3 linked regions of the Homo sapiens genome follow. The protein of the gene in region 1 purifies or fractionates together with the protein of each later gene. This does not show direct contact. Each region holds a gene or a part of one and is shown on either strand. Other genes may lie near its edges.

The links. Proteins that work in one complex are often made in the same cells at the same time.
Region 2: the proteins of MEIS2 (region 1) and PBX3 purify together in Homo sapiens (affinity purification with mass spectrometry; 4 studies listed by BioGRID and IntAct, with this or other methods). This does not show direct contact.
Region 3: the proteins of MEIS2 (region 1) and PIGL purify together in Homo sapiens (affinity purification with mass spectrometry; 3 studies listed by BioGRID and IntAct, with this or other methods). This does not show direct contact.

Annotation. Positions count from the first base shown.
Region 1 is NC_000015.10:37,034,547-37,041,574, forward strand, and holds part of MEIS2 (homeobox protein Meis2), read right to left. Parts: intron 2,414-7,028; coding exon 2,268-2,413; intron 1-2,267. UniProt on the Homo sapiens protein: Involved in transcriptional regulation. Binds to HOX or PBX proteins to form dimers, or to a DNA-bound dimer of PBX and HOX proteins and thought to have a role in stabilization of the homeoprotein-DNA complex.
Region 2 is NC_000009.12:125,750,361-125,757,388, reverse strand, and holds part of PBX3 (pre-B-cell leukemia transcription factor 3), read right to left. Parts: intron 1-7,028. UniProt on the Homo sapiens protein: Transcriptional activator that binds the sequence 5'-ATCAATCAA-3'.
Region 3 is NC_000017.11:16,311,198-16,318,225, reverse strand, and holds part of PIGL (N-acetylglucosaminyl-phosphatidylinositol de-N-acetylase), read right to left. Parts: intron 4,680-7,028; coding exon 4,612-4,679; intron 4,315-4,611; coding exon of another isoform or gene 4,257-4,314; exon of another isoform or gene 4,054-4,256; intron 1,546-4,053; coding exon 1,514-1,545; intron 1,432-1,513; coding exon of another isoform or gene 1,142-1,431; exon of another isoform or gene 452-1,141; coding exon 318-451; intron 1-317.

The sequences.
Region 1 (7,028 bases):
ACCAGCCACCCACAACTCTAATCGGTGGCCATGGTGCATGCTGGGTGCCGCCCTGGGCAGGGAGGTGGGAGATAAGGTATTAAGGGCTCCTGACACTCCCATGTGAGATTCAACTCACAAAATACAGGTGGTAAGGCTTTCTATATTGGGTAACACGGAGCTTTCAAAACAAGAAAAGAAAACAGCACTTGGCTTCTCCGTATTTCTCCCTTGTGACTCTGAGCGTATTGATGGTGGAGACTGTGAGATTTCTATGCAACTGTTAAAGGTGATCGTCATTTTGGCAAAGTCATTGTAATGTGGAAAAATCACAGAGTTGGGGACTTGGAAGTCTCGGGCCCTTGTCTCAGCTTGACCTTCAGCTAGTAACTTCCCTTTTTGGGTCTCTGTTTCCTCATCTATAAACAGAGCAGCTGCATTCTCTAAGGTTCTACTGTTCTCTGACATTGGTTTTGATGACAGAGAGGTTGAAAACACACGTAGCTGTTTGCTTGGAAAGCAGCTGTTGAAGTGTTTATTTTCGACCAAGAAAGACCAAGCATGGAGGAGGACAGAGGGAGGGAACCAAACAGGTGAGCTGGTCAGGAGAAGGCAGCTGGCCTGTCATCCGCAGCTACACTGCCGTTCTTAGTTGCTACTCTAACCAAACAAACCTTCATTTAAAAATGAGAAACCCCTCCCCTCACAGTCACTCGACTTCCAAATTAAAAACATTTTACAGGTTAGTAAATCTCCAGCTGAGGTGATGTAGCAAAGAACAGCTGTGAAGTAATTTTGATAATGATGAGAATAATAACCACATGGCAAGGTTCAGGGCTTTGCTGTTGCAGCTTCAGTGCTCCTGAATAGATAAAAGTGATTAAATACTCCTGATTATCCCTGACCAATATGTAATGGATTTACAGCCCTTTCAATTAGTCAGTATTTGCTTAGGACTCATTATTTTGTCTTTGGTTAAGTAATCAGTCCAGAGACCGCATGTTCTGTCTAATTCCTCTGAGCCGAGTCAGTGCAGGGCCCTGACCTTTGAAATGGCCATAGCTGCAAGGCAAGAATAACCACTACCACAGCTGCCTCATTGGTTCTCCCAGCTAATCCTGACACCACAGGCCAGATCGATACACCTTAGTTTGCTACTAATGTCCTTACATCAAAATGGCCGATTTAGGAATGTGAATCTATCACTTTTCCCTCCCCACCACTGCTCCACCCCTTGCCCTTTGTAGCTCTGCAAGAAGAGCCCATCAGCAGCCACCACCATAAATAAAAGTGGAACCTTGTCCTGGACCCATGACACTGTAACTAATGTCATTCAGCATGGCAACACACAAGTTGGATAATCAAAGAAGACCTTCAGCTTTCAATGTGCTACTCTATTTTTAAGTATTAGCCTAAATAGAATGGCCTGAAAACAATATTATAGCAAGAAGCAACCTCTGAAATTTTTACTGGTTTCCCAGAATTTCCAAATGAACAGTAAAATATAAGCATGCCTAGTTTATCTGTAAAAATATATTGTAATTTTTTTGTCATAAGAGTCTTAGAGTCAACAGTATGTATCCACACATACAAGGATTGCAAACAGGAAGATAAAGATAAATTGTTACTTTTAAAATGTCTCACATAGTAAAACCGTTTCCAGAAGTGAACATGGTTAGCTTTTAAGATAATGGACTTGAGCAGCTAAAAAAAGAATCTTTAATGTCCACCTTGCAAACAAAGGCATTACAGCACCTATAACCCTTCTGAATTTGTCATATAAATACATGACATATTTGTAAACTGCTTCAGCAATTAAAGCTGCACCTGATATTGTGAGCTTGGACATGCATGTGGCAAGGTGCTTTTTTTTTTTTTTTTTTGGCCTCCTAGAGGAGACAGCTTTCGTTAACAGTGTAATCAGCAACGTTTATGGATTTGTGAGCTCCTTACAGCCATTTCCCTTGGTTGCTGTTGCAGTATCCGAAGTTGCTCTCATACTTTTAGCATAAATAACAAATTTACTTATATATGCTGTTTAGGGTCTTAGATCATTTTAAATAAAGTCCATTCCCAGCTTCTTAAAACAAAAACCTGCTACTTTCTAGAGGGTGCTCTTTGGATGGTAATAGTTGATGAAAAAAAAAACTTTAACTAGTCTGTTAGTCATCAGATTTCAAGAATAAGAAAATAGGCACCTTAGTTTAAAAAAAAATCAGTATGAGACCGTATAACTTGCTAGCAAAACAACAAAAACTATTTTTTTTTTCTCTTTCATCTTGACTTACTGTGAGATGCTGGAAGAGCCATGCTCTCATGATATTTGTTGCTACTTTGGGGAAAATGCCTCTTTTCTTCTGGCGTTTTTTGTCCTTATCCGGATCATCATCGTCACCTGTACCAGGTGAAGCTACACTGTTGTCTAAACCATCCCCTAGTAGAAAGAAATAAAAATACATTAGAGAAAACATCGCAAGGTGCCAACAACAAGTGCAGCTAATGATGAGCTCAGCTAAGCTTGTTGAAAGAAATCCATTAAGCGAGTATATTCTCTTTCATTAAAGTATAATTGGAGACACAAATATGTAAAAGACAAAATTAAACCAGGCCTCTTCAAATGTTAATTTTGTGTGTCTCACACTTGCCCATATCATTAATTCAATTATAACTGTGCACTTGACACAGTGCAGTAGCTCTTTGTCAATTATGGAATCCAATGTGGGAAAACCGCCATCAGAAAACCTATTCAGTGGAAACGCATCCCCATGCCCAGAGTGAACACATACTGTAGGGTAATCAAGTTAAATGTTCTGTAGTCTATATATTCTAGGCTGCCTGCATAGGTGACAGTAACTGTGTCACTGTTCGTTGCACATAACGCACTGCCTGCTCAGCCCCTCCTAGAGCTGTCACCTCCTAAGCACGCACATTCGCACACTTCTCATATGACCCTGCACTCGGCATTTGCATGACATGAAAACTTTTAGCTCTCTGCACCACTGATCATTATCATGAAAAAAAAAAAGATACACATCAAGGTAGGGTGCTCACTTAATCAGAAGTTTCTATCAACATCTTTCTCTTCTGTGCTTTTCTCTGGCATTAATTGTGCATTAGCAAAAATCATTTACTTTTAACAGTCATAGTTATTTTTTCTTGCCCTCTGGCAAAAATGCCTTGAAAGCCTGCCTGGAGGGCATCTAAATTATGTATCTGAAAAACTCTTCTGGCAAGGCATTGCAGGACCCCTACTTTCTTAAAATTCATACGAGCACGTCTTCCTGTTTTTGGGAAGGCATCAATCAAGAGCAGCAATATATGCCATATCCCTACATTAATATTTGAACTAATAACTTTAAAAAAAGGAAAGAAACAAGATCCGACTTGTGGCATAATCAAATGCAAAATAAATGAAGAATACGGGGACAGCACTGGGGCTTTATAGATGGCTGTGTTTTCCTTGCACATCATTAGCCTGGAGCCACACGAAAGAGGAAAACAGAGAAGTGGAGAGTTTATGCTCCCTGCTGGTGTTTAAGAAGCCAGGGTCCTGGAAGGACATCTGGGAATTGCACTGAGATGGGGGTTTTTGTAATTTAAGAATAGACATTCATTAGCAGTAAATGCCATAAATCCCATGCTAAGTAAAAACCTTGTCCAAGAAAGCCTAAAACAATAAACTCTGTGCTCAATGTAGCCTGAGCTGGATGCTCTGTAGCTTTCTGAGGAATACTAGAGATCCATCAGCTCATTCCCAGACCTGCTCCCTCCTCTCGGACTATGCTACAGCACAGCCATCCTGCCCACTGGGCCACTTGCCTTCTAACTTCTGGGTCTGCTCTGTGGGCTTCCCTGTACCTGTTCTTTTCCTTTCTTGCCAAAAAACCCTCAACTTTCTTTGACTAGAGAAGCAGAAAAGCCACAGCAAAGAGCTGGCAGATTAATTTTATTGACATTTCCATTTTCACTGCAATGCGATACCCTCCATCACATGGAAGAGATGACCCTCACTATTTACAGACTGACAGGCCACTTCATTACAACCACCCTGCCCCAAGGCAAAGCAGCTCCCTTCCATCTGCCCAAACACTAGAGCATGACCCCGAAGTTGCTGTTCTCTTTTTCTTTGCCTTCTGTTATGATAAGAAAAAAGGGACCCCATATAGTCAAAGACCGAATCAGTATACAGTGAAACAAAAGGCATTTGACTCTTTCAATACTGGATAATATACAGTCTAGTTTTCATCTGTCACCCTCCCTGCACACCCATGTACACCGGAGTGTCGCCTGGACAAGGAGACACACACACATACACGCACACCCAAGCTCGTGCAGGGACACGTGCACACGCTTTCCACCATGCCAAGGAACTGCTGCAAGGCAAATTCTCACCCACACTAATGGCTTCTGACTGCTCCTTGGCAACCCTAGCATTTTAACCTGGGTGGATGTGCTCTCCAAAATACAGACACTGGAGCGATCTCATCAGCTGTTCATGTGACACAGATGGAGAGTGGCTATTAGGAGCCAGGCAGTGGGCCTTGGGGATCTGAGGTGCTGTTCTGTAGCCTGAGGCAATTTTGAAAAGCAGTACCCGGAGATGAGGAAAAAAAATCCACACTGCAAGTGCAAGTTTGAAGTCAGTCAGTCTGTCTGTCTACCTACCATGGATAAAGATATCTTTGTGTGTAATATGAAATCTATGTAGGCTATCTGAATGTACATTTCAGATAATGTATGTATGGAATAACTCTTCCTTCAGTGTCTTCCAAATATAAAAACACACTCTGTAAACAATGCCTGTGTGTATATATTTCTTTCTAAGCACATATGGTTTCTGTGTATATGTTTAAGCTGAAATTGTCAGGATTTTGTTAAAATCTCATTTAGCTTTTTTTGATAGATTTTTGAATGCACTTATTTTAAAAGGTTAATGGCTTAATTGAAGGAAGTTCAATGAAAAAAGTCATTTGCCTTTTTAACCCAATCAATGACCTTAAAAATGAGAGACAGCATTTCCACAGTGCATCTTTTCTTTCTTAAAAGCAAAGAGGGCTGGTAACACCTTCGAACTTTATGATTCACTATATTTAGTGCAAGAAAAAATATAGCTAGATTGAGCATCCTTTGATGACTGACTTAAACTGGAGAAGACAGGAGCATCACATAAATTTTAATATAAAGCAACCCGTTGTATATAAATGTAAAATATTTGAATTTAGATCCAGTGTAACAAATAATTATAAACAATAATGTGTCTAGTTTTGTATTAATGACTACATACTAGACACAAAATTTTAAACTAATATATGTTTATACCTCTATAAAAAGAGGAATTTTCCTCTCCCAAACACAACAATAAATACAATTGTTTTTTCCTCCAATGGACTGTGGACCAAATCCAGCACAGAGAACTAACAACAGCATAACGAAAATTTTTGAAAGACAACTGCGTGAACTGCAACCTAAAATAAAATTTTGCAGCTGATGCTAGAGTTAGTAACTCAACATGGATATTGGTGTTTTTTTTTTTTTGTTTTAAGGCTGTGTATGTGTGTGTGTGTGTGTGTGGTTGTGTGTATAAGATAGTTGGCAATCCTTGGCACATGTGCCAAATGAGTTTATGTGCTGAAAAAGGTATGTATACCAGCACAAATGCACGTGCCAAATGAGGTAAGGAGATAGCATCTGAAGTTAGGATTCAAAATTGTGGAATCCTTGCGGGCAGTTAACTGTTTCTTGCTTATCTTTTGATTATGAGAAGATACCTCCATGCCTGACTCAGAACACATAACCAGTGATTGTTGGTTGGGTGAGTAAATGACTGAACTTATCAATGAGCTTATGCAAGGGCCCTCCCCACTTTTTGCCAACCCCCACGGTGGGGCAACTGCACACACTATATACCTAAAGGGTGAAGGTCTTGTTCCTCTGGAACAGCTGAGTGGGTTACGTATGTGCACACAGTAACTTCTAAACATGCCAGGAACAGAGCTTCTTTGAAGAGCTGAGTACCCACAGGGCTTTTTTGCAGAGCTAAACCAAAGGCCATTCCATCAGCATTGCCACCTCTGATGATGAAAGGCTATATAAAGAAATACTGGGCATGCTTCTTTTGAAAGGTTGCTAATCCCTTGACCAAGGGCATAGTCTAAGTTTTGGGTAAACATACTCAAAATAAATGTGCATTAGTGAAACATATTGTGTGTGACCATGGAAAGGAAGACTCAAGGCCTGTGGACAGATAAATCGGAAGTGGATTAAATGATCAGAGGAGATTGTTAAAAACACAGGTCCCCAGGCCTCATCCCAGACCTACTGATTCAAAATGTCCTAGGGCGGGAAAAAGGAATTTGTAATTTCAACAATTCCTTGGGTTTGCTTATGCAATCAGAGTATCACTGATGCTTTAACTGGCTTTGGGAAGCCACTGACTAGATTATCTAAATTGAAATGAGATGCAGCCTCAGGAACAGGTAGGTAATTAAAATCCTACTTTACTCCCATGAATGAGGTTAGCAGCCACAGTGAGTAACTGCAATCTGGCCTGGGCCTTATTCACTGTGGGAAAGCCATGGTGTTCTAAATCCCCATCCTAGTCTTCTGGTAGTAAGGGTTAAACAGAAAGAAAGAAGCTATAGAACATTGGCTCTGTGCATTGGCACTAGCTAAAAAATTGTGAGAAATGCAAATTCTCAGTCTTAGCTGAGACCTACTGAATCTGAAACTCTAGGTGTGGGGCCCTGTTAATCATCCCTGCAGGTGGGTCTGATGCCCACTCTAGCTCGAGAACCACTGCCATAAAGCACAGAGAACATCCCCTTGGTTTGCTGTCCTCCTTTGTTGCTGTCTGAAGGCCTGAATCTAATCCCTGGGTCCTCCTTCTGTCTTAAGACTCTGAAGCATTTTGAGAGCATCTCTAGCTGGATTTACACCTATGCTCTCAAGGAAGTCACGCATGCTTTCCTTAGCTGAGCAGATTATGCTCAGAACACAACATTGCTCTGGTAGGTAGCTCCAGCATACACCTACTTAAAAGAGCAATAATG
Region 2 (7,028 bases), on another chromosome or scaffold:
TCATAATAAATATAAAATCAATTTCCTGCTCTAGTTCCTATTCCAAGTTGAAAATGATATATCTGACTATGAATTCCAACAACCTTCACCTGTAGTTTTTTTTTTAAAAAAAAACAATGGTGGGAGGAGAAAAGAAAGAAAAATGAAACTTGTAAGACCACCTAAGTCAATTCTTCCTCATTTAAGGACACTTGGATAGTAAAGGTAAGATGCACATTTAAGCTTGCCATTTCAAATATATATATTTTTTAATGCAATGATTTCCTCCCCATCAAATGCCATTCAAGAATTTCATAAGTCCTTCCCAATAATTCCTCTATAAATTATTTGCAGGGCTTAGTACATCTGAAAGCCTGTAGAAACCTTTGTTTAAATAATAACATGCAATTTCAAAAGCTTTTTGTTCCCTTTTCAATCAAAAATAACTTCATATGTTTTAAATGAAATTTTGCAAGTAATCAGAGACTAATGAGGATTCACTGATTTAACTAGTTCAGGGAATCAGAGAAGGGAGTGAGAATTTAAAGTAACCAAGTGTTTCATTTAGAAAAGCAGCTAATGTGGTAGGTACACTAAAAGTCGTCTTCACAGCGAAATGTAATCAGGACTTTTGTCTCAGGAGAAACTCATCCTCCTTTCTGTGCACATTCGTAACTCACATTACCATTAACAGGCATCACACATGCACACCGAAGAGATGCCTGCCTTGGTAGTATGCATGCATGGCAGCTGTGGTGACTAAATAATCCACATGGCTCTGAAGAGAAGATATGGTTTACTGGGTCCAGAGTCACAGCTACAGTGGTGGAATTCAGACACTTGAACTAAACCCCAGTAGGAATGCCTTACCCAAACCCTCTTCCTTCTAACCATACCCAGCAAATACAGTTAGGCCAGGATTTTGCAATTCCATCCTCTATGCATGGTTTATAGATAGAAGTTCCATGTTTGAGTAAACCTTAACCTTCTTGTAGGCACAGAAGGTCTGTCTTCCTCCCTTTCCCCACAGCAATCCTAGTATTCATTCATGTATTTCTCCCCAGAATATAAGAAATATCACAAAATAGCTTTATAGAGAAAAATTCAGAGGCCTAGCTTAGGCCACAAAAGTCAACAAAATCTGAATCCAGTATGAAATTCCATCTTCCACACAAAATGTCATCAGTAATCTTACCTATAAGATATATGCTGAAATATAAATTCCACAGGTTGTATAAAGGGCAGTTTAACCATGAATTATAATTGTTACAGCTTTTATGGATTCAAGTCAGAATGTTAATACTCATTTAATATAGTTTTCTGAAGCCCAATTCAACTTCTTCCTTCCTTCCCTAGTGAAGAAAATATCCTTGTGAAGTTCAATTTAGTGACATTGGTGCACAAGCCCATACACAGAAGTTTACACTTCTGAGAAGAGATAAGTGATAAACAGTTCATTAGCCATGTTAATGAAATTATGTTTTAGGAAAAAAAAGACTAGGTGACACAAAAATTTTAGTATATTTTTATACAGAAACATTACAATAAAAACTTTATATTCAGTATCTCCAATTAGGTCAATTAATATTCAGAAAAATCCTGTAACATTTCATTTAAATAATCATAGGAGGGGGAAAAAAGAATCCACCAATGTTCTGGAAGCTTCTCTAGACCTTTCAATCAATTTTATTTATATGCAAAACCAAGAGAAACTCAAAAAAAAAAAAAAAAAAAAAACAAAGCTCCTCCTGATGCTAAAGCTCTCAATTTACTGACAGGCAAATGGCTTCATGCTGCCACTTAATCTCATTTCTTGCATAATGCCCTCTAATTAGCATATCAAAGTGAATTAATACTTCTAGGGCATTAGCAATGGGGAAATCTGCTCCAGGCTCACAATAGCAGTTAAGAGAGAGCCAAGAAATCCTCAAAAACACCACAAACCACTTTGCATTGCAAAACTGTTCAATTTATTTATCCTCTCTCTCTAAACACTTTTACCGCACACTGTTTTACTACTGTTCACCAAACAAAATGATAATTGCCAAAGTTACCAGCATCTGTAATGCCTGTTTAGAATCTTAATTTAGACTGTTGCAGATAATTTCTATATGCAACCATTTGTTCTATTATAAATGTTAATATAGAGACAGTGAAAATGTTGACATTCTCAATTAGTTAATTTGAATTTGAAATAAAATTTTATGGGATTTTAAAATTTATGAATTTTTTAATGTAAAAAGCCACCTGCTGGACTCTGAAGCCTAAGAAATATGCTTTGAAAACTGATGTATCACATAAAAGAAAACAAAACAAACAAAAAATCATTTTGCCATAACATGTTGAGTCTCACAAATAATGGTTTAAACATTGTGAGGACTCATCAGCATTAAAAGGATTACATTGTATACCAAGTCCTCATTAATATGATCACTAAAAAAGAGTTATTGTCTAAACAGCTTAACATTTTTAAAGCACTTAAGTTGAAAGAAGTAGAAAACTTTTAACAATTATTTTTATCCATAAATATTTTTAATTGCTTTCATACTAACCTGTTACTATTACGTAGACAGTTATACAAAAAAAGTTACGCCAATTCAGTTTGATACATTCTATCACACCAATTTTTTTGCTAGATATACACTCAAATTTAGTGCCAAAGTAAACTAGTTACCATTAAAACCTACAAACATATTATACTATGGAATATATCTATGAAAAAATAATACAGAAGAAATTCTTGTTGCAATTCTGCCTACAAAAGGGATAATTAGAATCAAGTGTTGAAGATTAATGAAATTTATTTTTTAATATGTTCTGAGTTTGAAGGCATAAAAAGGTGGTTTATTTTTTCAGTAGCTCATTCAAGAATTACTTATTATTTGCTAAATATAGCACTGTCAACTAGATGTGATAGCAATTTGTCTGATTAACTTCAATAACTTTGTAAAAAATCAGATAGCTAGTTCTGAAAAACTTTTACCAATTTATACTACATAGTGATATAAATTATTTACTCTCTTCATACTTGAAGACTCAAATGGCCTACTGAAGTAGAGCAAATGCTTGAAAAGGTCAACACGGGCTTGAGGGGGAGGTGGTGGTAATGTGTAAGCTTTGTTAGTCAGTTAATACCTAAATCATGCTGATCACACTGATAAATGGCTAAAACACAAGACTGCTGAGAAAACAAAACATTATTCTCATAATGTCAATATTGAACTAATAAATATCTAAAGATGTTCACAAACACGAATAGGGAAAAGATAATCTAAAACCTTATATAACTTGATGTGTTAGTGCTGATGTGTTAAGCATTTATTCTAAATAGATACCTCAGGGTAGAGTACAAAATAAAGTGATGACTGACTTAGGGTGTGGTTCACGAAATGCAGTTTCAATTCTTATAGTCCCACTTCATATAATGTAACTTCATCCTATACCATGCCACTATAAAGTATCAAAATATAAATAATCCAACTAATACGTTAATTTAAATTTGCCTCAGAAGTAACCTTTTACAAAATTTATAAATTGAGATGGAAATATACAGGCAAAATTAATTAAAAGGAAAAGCATCATAGTATGAAAAATGTAGACAAGTACATTTTATGAAAGCCGATCAACCAGTGTGCTCTTTGGGGCAAGTCGGGGCCTCCTTTGCTAGTGTATTAAAAGACTTCTAATTCAGAATAAAATTATGTAAATTAATAAAATAACATAGTAAAGTCCCAAATAAAATACCAAAACTATTCAAATCTGTAATAAAATGAGGGTCATTAAAACTAAGGAACAAAAGAATTACTTGCACAGATCAAGTTAGTATTGACAAGAGAGTTCAATACATTTTTATTGGGAAGAAAAAAATAAAGAACAGGATTGGAAAATGTCTCTATATTTTAAAGATAATATCCACATGATACTTTAGATCATGAGGTTCTAAACCAGCTTGGCAATGAGATTTTTCTCCAGGTTTTCTACAAATGTATTATATGTGCTATTTTGTTAGGATGGAAATGGAAGAATAAAGAAGTAGAAAAATCCCTTTCTTTTACAACTTCTCTGAAAACCTCCTACAAAAGCTCCAGTAAGATACCAAATCTATAAAAATAGAAAAAAAAAAAGGTAAAATATTAAGTTAAGAAAAATATATTGATAAAGCAATATAATTTATAACATTTCCAAGATACTCTGACTTTGTATTTTTCCTGTTTAATCACTTAATATTTCCAATATAAGCAGACCTAATGCTTAAAATTGATATGAAACTTAAAACATTAAAGAACCATTAAAATTTGCTTCAAAATAATTTTGGAATGGTGGGAATTACAGAGAAAACACGACTGGCCAAGTATTGCTAATTGCTGAAGATGGGCACTGAGTTCATGGGAGGTTCAAGAGTCTCTGCTCTCTGCATGTTATGTTTCAAAGGTGTCCACAATAAAAAGTTGTTAAAATCTTGAAAATAAGTTCATTAAAACAAAATGTGTTTCATGAAAACACAAAAAGGAATCATGTATGGAACAGTGCATTTGTTTTTAAAACTTGAAACAAAAGATGATAATTATATTGGAAATAGTGCAAGAGCAACTTAAAAGCATATGCAAAATATATAATAACATTTAGACTAATATATAACAATTTTCACCTTTCTTGCTAAATTTTCACTTGAAAAAATTGATTTTTACATATGTAGAATTAAAAGAATCACACAGCACTGTACAAAGAAAAATGTAACAGATTTTTATATTGAAACCTTAAAAAGAGAAGCACACCAAAAAAAGACTCCAAAGAGTCTCTAAACCTGTGGGTTCACAATTAAATAGAGAGGTGTCGAATGACAGTACTGCCTTGTCTCTTTGAAAGCTAGTCACACTTCTAGCAATAAAGATAAAAGGTTTAATCTCACATCATATACTAAATGCACATAAAACCTCACTTGTAAACTATACTCTTGATCTAGTTTTAATATCTAAAATTCTTATGACTCTTTCTAGGGAGGGTTCCTTTAAAAGTAAGGCATTTTTACTAGTCATTTTCTTCTCCTTAAACATAAAAAATACTTCAACCAGCCCAACCAACCAAGCAGGCCTTTCTCTTCCCCTGCGGACACCTCCTGCAGTAGAGAAGTTCATTAAGTTTTATGATCTTCCCAAGTCAGTCCTACTTATAAGCCTCACAAAGGCTACAAATCTGGCAAACCATCATGTATGCCATTAGACATTACTAGTAAATGAACGCTATTTAGGGTTTGTGGTGGCAATAAATCAGAGTTTGGTTGGCAGCCATCAACATGGAGTATTTTAACCTATTATTTGAAAAGGAAAAGGTTGTGTTTATTTTTTTTCATGCATAACATTTTTCACAATAATGTGATTCATATTATCTACTAAAATGTGGGATTTCATTTAAAAAATAAATATTTTTTTCTTGAAAAAGAACTATTTCCTTCACTTAAACTCGCACAATTAAGGGCTTTGGAAAGAAGACAAGATTTTTCAGGATGAAATATTTCACAAAGGAAAGCACTTCAACAATTAAGATTAAGATGACCAAAAAGAGGTGGGGGCATACACCAAAAGAGGTATGCAGGTGAGCAGACCTTGTGGCATCAGGGATATTTAATAAGAGACAGATGATAAAATATGGCTTTAAAAATCAGGAGAAAAATCTTAACATATCAACAATAATCTCACTGGTTACTTGGTTTAAAATAAACAACTATTTTTATTTTAAAGCCTACAACTTTTTGGGTGCTCTCAAAATGCACAAATATCACAATTCAACAATGAGAGACATTTCTGCCCAAAAATAATGGTATGATCAATTTTACGAAAGAATATATTCTCAAGAAAAAGCAGCATCTTATAGTAGAAGTATACTTTCCTTACCTCTCAACAAGAAAATAATATAATTGTAGTAGATTACCCATTTATCTGTCAGAAGGGAAAAATACCTTTTCATATATGGTAGAGGGGGAAACAGATGTTTTCTAAACTAAATCCCCCATGTGCATAAGAACTGGCAGTGTTCACTGCCTGATCAGAAACCTCAAAATCCACTGGCAGAGCTACAAATAAACAGATTTTTTTTAAAATGATTTTGTTTTGTTTTAGAAGAAAAGCACAACTGAAATGACATTATCCACTGAAATGACAGTTCACCCTCAACCCCCTTCATTAAGCAGAATAGAGTCATCAACATAATGTTTCTGGTTTCTATTCATAAATGACTAGGTAAACTTTCTCTAAATTACAAAGAATTAATTTTTAGGTATTATTAGATTAAATAAAATGATTTTTAAAAAATATTTATGCAATATACATATATTCTACAATGTTTCTTTTATAAGTTCATGTTTCTAAAGCATGACCGACTATGGAAGCAGGAGTGGGGGGGCTTGGAATTTGCAGCCCCGCTTTCTTTGCTTTGGTAACACTAATGTCTACACAGCTGTTTTATTTCGAATTGAGGATTCTGAGTCCCTGTCTCATTCTAAGACTAGTTTTGGAGAGTGAGGTGAAGCTATGGGTAGTAGGGGAGAATGGAAAGAAGAGAAAGAGCTTCACCCCCATCAATCACTCAGTACTTAAATCCCATCCCTCTCGAGCTTAGAGAGGCTAGCAGGAAGATGCCTCTACCCAGACAGCCGCCTTTACTCTTTGTCGGCTGTTGGCTTTTTACAAAAGAGATAACGTGCAAATGTGGATCCACTGGCCAAAGCACAAAAAGAGAATCTAATTTACAAGTTATCACTGAAAGCCCCAGAAACAATTTTAAAACACAAAAATTTCTTTTGTCAGCTGCCTCTTGGTTTTTAAATAGCAATAGCCCTACCAAAGCTCTCTCTGCCAGTAATCCCAGACTTTGAAAAGATTTGTTTCTTTTTCGTAACTCACCTTTGACATGTGGTTGACTATACTTTCCTTTCAGAATGGTGTAACTAAGTCCTGTGCAAATAAGCAACTAAAGGACTTATGCTTCCTAATTGAATTCTGCCTGCTGCTAAATGTCTCAACATGAAAAGCAGTTTGCTGGGTTTAGTTCTC
Region 3 (7,028 bases), on another chromosome or scaffold:
TGGGACTGCAGGTAATTGTTCTTATTTTTATTTTCTTTTTGATGCTTTTATGTTTTTCAAGATTTTCTGCAATGAGCATGTGTTATTTACTTTTAGAAAAAGCATATATTATTTTTATAATTAGAAAAAAAAGGCTAAAGTCATTGAAAAATCTATGCCTCCCAAGATCTAGCTGGCCTAGCCCTAATTCTCAGGGACAGGTGCTGAACCACTGTGAAAAACCTTCAGTTAGGGCTTCTGCAGAGGTGGGGCTTTGAGGAGACAGGGGTCTGGGGCAGGGATCTGAGTTGGGGTGTCCAGGAATTTACAATCCTCACCTTGGCCTGTGCCACTTCTTTGCTGTTGAGCACGAAGAGGACATCCTGCGTATGAAGCAGAGACAAGGGCAGATCCAGAAGGGAGATGTACTTGCGCAGCACATTCACAGACTGAAGCGTGAGCACAGAGCACCCTGGATGGAGAGGAGACAGGGTGAAGTGATAAGCCTTGAGGCCTCCAGCCAGATTTTCCCCTGAGCATCCTCCCTCTACCCTGTGGCTCAGGGCAGGGCAGGACAGTGGCCACAGCATTGCCACGTGTTTCTGTGGCACTAAAGCTGCCCTGTGCCCATGATTCTTGCAGCTAGAACGAGTAAAAGGGCCATAGAAGACCTGGCTGGCTACCCTCTACCCTGCGGTGTGCCCTACCAGAAAAAGGTTGGCTGCTAGAGGTTGAGATCTGGCTACCTCAAAGCCAAAGGAAGTAAAGGAGACAGGAATTACTGTATTGGGAGTTTAGAGACCTGGTTCCAGCTCTGTCAGTCAAGAATTGACAGACTTGGCAAAGTCCCTTAACCACTCTCAGTCTCAGTTTTCTAATCTGTAAATTGGTGTTGATAGTGTGAGACCTGCCTGTCTCACAGGATTGATATAAGAATCAAACAAACTATAGTCATGTTCCAAAGTCATCATGGCTTGGTAAGCTCCTTTCAGTCATCCCACATAGAAAGGGCACAAACTACTTACGTTTTCATTCATTGAATCTTCGTATTGCGCCGGTGAGGTATGACAGACCAGAAACTGGTCCAGAGAGGCTAAGCATGGGGGTCATGCAGTAAATGGTCAGGTAGGGTCAAATACTTTATGTGGGTTAGGAAGAGTTCCTAACTCAGGCAGATTGGTTCATCAAGCACCCAGCAGTCATTTACAACCTGCCTAATTGGTTGGGGGATGGGATTGAGTTCAGACTGGAAGAATACCAGAGGTGTAAAACATCCACCCTGTGAAAAAGCTAGACAGGTTGAGGGGCAAACCTGGCCTCCCCACTCATCCAGAGGTGGCCCTGCAGGCAGGCACTTGCTGGTAGATACAACCTGCCAGGTACCTTGAGGTGAGTCAGGAAGAGTGTGGCGGCCTCCCCAACCACTGCCTCTGCTCGGCTGAGGGCAGCTCTCTGTGGATTTGCAAATTTCCCCCTCATAAGTTTCTCAGAGGGACAGTATCTTGTGGCCCTTTGCAAAAGGAACAAGCCTTACCTTTAGGTAACTTCCCTTCTGAGTGCAGGGCCCTGGAGGAGGGATAGGACAAGAGTGAGAGGAGTAAGGATCATTTCCTTTGTAGGTAACAGGAGGGGCCTTCAGAGGAAAGGCTGCCATGCCCATGGTCCCCTCCATGTGAGTCTCCAGGTGGTTTCTTTTGCATAAATCACTGTATAGATTTCCAGGATCCCATACCTCTGGCAACAGCTGAAGGGACCAGGATGGGCACCTGAGCTAGGGACAGCCAATCCAGAGGCTGGTCTGTGGTTTGTGAAGTACTCTGGTCCAAGCTTTGCCCATTAGAGAATGAAGGTAACTGTGCTGGACTCTTCATAGTTTTTCTCTTGGAAGTGTAATGTGAGTATGATGGGGGAATATTTTACAATGCTAACTGATAGCTCTTCCCTGATATTTCCTTTCTCCTTTCTGAGCTTCCCTACGCCTACCTTCTGACAGTGCAGGTCATTCTGTGCTCGCCACCTTAAGAGGAGGGGAGTGTCAACTGCAATGAGCTCCAAGTCTCTTCCCCACTTTGTTGTTTAGAAAGCTGGGGGCAGAGAAGGATTGGGAAGGTAGCCCCAGCAACACACAGACACACATATGAACAGAGACTCTTGGGAGCAGGGGTTAAACAAGAGAAGTTGAGAGACAATTGACAAATTCATGGAACTGACTGCCTGGCAGAGCCTGAGAGGTAGAAAAACCTGAAAAAGGAGCCGGGCGCGGTGGCTCACGCCTGTAAACCCAGCACTTTGGGAGGCCGAGGCAAGCGGATCACGAGGTCAGGAGTTCGGCACCAGCCTGGCCAATATGGTGAAACTCCGTCTCTAATAAAAATACAAAAATTAACCGGGCGTGGTGGCATGCACCAGTAGTTCCCAGCTACTCAGGAGGCTGAGGCAGGAGGCGGAGGCTGCAGTGAGCTGAGATCACGCCACTGCACACCAGCCTGGGTGACAGAGCGAGACTCTGTCTCAAAAAAAAAAAAAAAAAAAAAAAAAGAAAGAAAGAAAGAAAGAAAGAAAAGAAAAGACTGAAAAAACTTTCTGGGATCCTGAGAATGAAGTGGCTTGTCCTGTACTCTGGGCAAAGCCCTGTGGATATTCTGATGTCCAGGGAAAGCAGTGAGCTAGAGGCGCTGTCTGGAAGTAGAGCTTATAGCCCTTAAAGCCACAGGAGAAGCTGTGCTGAGGAGGACTGGGGAGTGAGCCCTGGGGACAGGGGGACCAAGGGGCCACTGGTGGGAGGGAAGCCGGGAAGAGAATGAGAAGTAGCCAGAAAGGCCAGAGTGAGGAGGGCAAGCTGGTGCCATATAAGTCAAAGCAGCATTGCAGTGAGGGACAGGCAGGGCCAGATGCCACAGAAGGTTCAAGGTGGCTGAGGACTAACGTGAGTCTAACGAATTTAGCAGGCAAGAGATGACTGTGGGGAAAAAGGTTGTGGCAGATTGGTGGCATGTCCATGAATTGTTTTATCTGAAGCACAGTGGCCCTCCTTCGTGCTGAGAGCCTGTGGCACTCCAGCCTCTTCTGAGGAAAATGGCCCCAGGCAGTTCTATCTACACAGAGTTGTCCCCTTGGGTTCTTTCTCTGCCCAGAATGACGCCTTCTCTATTTTCTCCACTTCAGTGGTGACTGGACCAGGAATGGGACCAGGTGACTCAATCTCAAGTGCCCCAGCCCCCTGCCTGTTGAGGTACTCTTTGTTTGCAATAGACCTGACCTGATCCTTTCTCTGGTGCAGTGTAAATTCTCGGAGAGAAATCACCAGGCTCAGTGTGCATCCAGAATGAGGTGGGACCATTTTTCCAGTTCTCCATGGGGCTTGCTGTCCATGCTAGTCTTGGAAGCTCAAGGCCTCAGAGTAACCATGTGGTTGGAAAGACCACTCTGGGGCTGCCTCATTTTTCCATATATCATCAAAAAAATTTGTATTTCAGACTGTAACCAGGGAATGTTTCTTTCCTGAATTTGAAGGGACCTAATGCGACTAGGAGCATGTCTCTTCTAAAGCTGTGGCTGCTGGCTGGACCAGGAACCGAATAGTCTTTACAGGGAGAACAGTCTAGCCTCCCCTCATTCCATAGTCAAGGAAACAGGGAAATCTGCCTAGAAAGAGTATGTGGGTAAAATTCTAGCATCTTCCACCAAGTGATGTAAAATTTAAGGACAAGGAGGGTCTTCAGTTTGGATTGGTCTTCACATACATCTGACAGAATAATGAATGGAGAACTAGGATTCCTGAATTCTGCCTCTGCCATAGTTTAACCTTGTGGTGCTGGGCAAACCACTTCCCAGTGATTGGACTTAATGGTTGGTGAGGTCATTTCCAACTTTACATATTGCATTGCTTCAGTCTGAGTGTTAAGCATGTTTAGAAGAAGGTTATTAAATAAGTCCTTCCCTTCAAGTTGCTTCTTTCCTTCCTCAGTAGCTGGGACAGGCCTGCCACACCACTGATCAGGGGCCCAGGAGAAGCACTTTGCTAGGGGACAGGAAACACATCTATGTTTGTATGACTCTATGTCACTCAATACCTTTGAGCTTGCATTTTCTTTTTATTGGTAAAATGCAAATAAATATCAGTAAAATCGGGTGACTGTGAAGAACAAACACATTTCATATTATGTATGTATATCCTCCTTCTCCAAGAAAGATTTGAGAGTTGTATAAAACACATGACGGAAGTGAGAGTAAGGGGAAGAAGATGGTGAAGGTGGAGGCACACTGATTGACAGCACTCATTCCTTAAAGTCTTGTCCAGTGCCACAGGGCTTGCAAATTTGGCCCTCAAGCTTCCTGTGGCCACAGAAAAGAGATGAATAAAGTCAATTACCCCATTCGCAGTATTCAGTGTATAAAAAAGAATTCAGCTGTTTAGGAGACGAGCATTCGTACTAGGACTTGAGAGAGATTTCTCAGCGAGAGGACATGGTGAGATGCAGTGAGCAACATGGCCAAAAAGGGCTAGAAGATAAGCCAGCAGTGAGTTTCATGGGCTCAGATAACAAGTGGGAAAGTGCTTTAGACTTTAAACCATGAGCCCTAATCAAATAAACAAACCCTCCCCCACATCCATCACCCGGAGAATCATACCTCACAGCTGCATACAGAGCAATGTGATTGCTGTGGCCACTTACTCCCCCTGCATCGAAAGTCACCACCTGTAGAGAAACACAGGGTTTTCACTGAATGCCTTCTCCACCACCTCAACTTCAATGGAGCTGTCTCCTTCCCTTGGGAAGGAGAGAACAGAACCCTGAAACTTTTCAAATGCAGCATCTATCTGAAGTGACTTCTGAGCAGATCAGTGGTGTGTAGCTAGTGCTGTGGTTGACCACATAGAGACTGTTTTCCAGGGTTTGATGTTTTACTCTTGTTCCTAGCCAGTGGAGCAGAGTGGAATTCAGCCATGATAGTAACTTGGGTTCAGAATATCTTTGTTGCTTATTGGTTTAGCCATTTATTAGCACATTTAGAATTCCTGGCTAGCTTCTAAGTGAACTCTGTTTATGCAGATACAGCCTGAATTACTGGTTCTCTTTTTCTCATGCCATACTGAGGGCAAAAAAAGCTTTGAAGGACAATGTCCACCGTGTCCTGGGGTTGAGTTCATGGAAAAAGTGTATTTATTCATAGATTGCCTCTGTTTCCATTTTCACAGCTATATCAATATCTGTTTATTAACTACAAGCTCAGTCTGTATTCCAACATTTCATTTCTACACAAATGAATTAAAGAAAAAACAAATAGCTCCCTCTCCCTCTCCCTCTCCCCCCCCCTTCCCCCTCCCCTCTTTCCAAGGTCTCCTTCTGATGCTGAGCCGAAGCTGGACTGTACTGCTGCCATCTCGGCTTACTGCAACCTCCCTGCCTGATTCTCCTACCTCAGCCTGCCGAGTGCCTGCGATTGCAGGCGCGCGCCGCCACGCCTGACTGGTTTTCGTATTTTTTTGGTGGAGACGGGGTTTCGCTGTGTTGGCCGGGCTGGTCTCCAGCTCCTAACCGCAAGTGATCTGCCAGCCTTGGCCTCCCAAGGTGCCGGGATTGCAGACGGAGTCTCGTTCACTCAGTGCTCAATGTTGCCCAGGCTGGAGTGCAGTGGCGTGATCTCGGCTAGCTACAACCTCCACCTCCCAGCCGCCTGCCTTGGCCTCCCAAAGTGCCGAGATTGCAGCCTCTGCCCGGCCGCCACCCCGTCTGGGAAGTGAGGAGCGTCTCTGCCTGGCCACCCATCGTCTGGGATGTGAGGAGCCCCTCTGCCCGGCCGCCCAGTCTGGGAAGTGAGGAGCGCCTCTTCCCGGCCGCCATCCCGTCTAGGAAGTGAGGAGCGCCTCCACCCGGCTGCCCATCGTCTGAGATGTGGGGAGCGCCTCTGCCCTGCCGCCCCATCTGGGATGTGAGGAGCGCCTCTGCCCGGCCGCGACCCCCGTCTGGGAGGTGAGGAGCGTCTCTGCCCGGCCTCCCCGTCTGAGAAGTGAGGAGCCCCTCCGCCCGGCAGCCGCCCCATCTGGGAAGTGAGGAGCGTCTCCGCCCAGCAGCCGCCCCGTCCGGGAGGGAGGTGGGGGGCTGCGGGCAGCCCCCGCCCGGCCAGCCGCCCCCTCCGGGAGGGAGGTGGGGGGGCAGCCCCCACCCGGCCAGCCACCCCGTCCGGGAGGTTGGGGGCGCCTCTGCCCGGCCACCCCGTCTGGGAAGTGAGGAGCCCCTCTGCCCGGCCACCACCCCGTCTGGGAGGTGTACCCAACAGCTCATTGAGAACGGGCCATGATGACGATGGCGGTTTTGTGGAATAGAAAAGGGGGAAAGGTGGGGAAAAGATAGAGAAATCAGATTGTTGCTGTGTCTGTGTAGAAGGAGGTAGACCTGGGAGACTTCATTTTGTTCTGTACTAAGAAAAATTCTTCTGCCTTGCGATGCTGTTGATCTCTGACCTTACCCCCAACCCTGTGCTCTCTGAAACATGTGCTGTGTCCACTCAGGGTTAAATGGATTAAGGGCGGTGCAAGATGTGCTTTGTTAAACAGATGCTTGAAGGCAGCATGCTCGTTAAGAGTCATCACCACTCCCTAATCTCAAGTACCCAGGGACACAAACACTGCGGAAGGCCGCAGGGTCCTCTGCCTAGGAAAACCAGAGACCTTTGTTCACTTGTTTATCTGCTGACCTTCCCTCCACTATTGTCCTATGACCCTGCCAAATCCCCCTCTTCGAGAAACACCCAAGAATGATCAAAAAAAAAAAAAAGAAAGAAAACCTCTGTGCTTTGGGCTTTACCACTTATTGGGTTTGTGGCTTTTTGCAAGTTATATAACATGTCTGTGGTGCAATTATCTCATATGTAATCATAATTGTACTTCACACAATTGTCATAGAGATTTTCTGAGATAAATGATAATAATAATTGCTAAAAAAAAGAAAAAACAAATAATAATTTGAATAATAATAATAATAAGGCTAACTCAAATAATAAAAGAAATATAAAAACGACAACAAGGACTGAAGAAAGGATAGAAT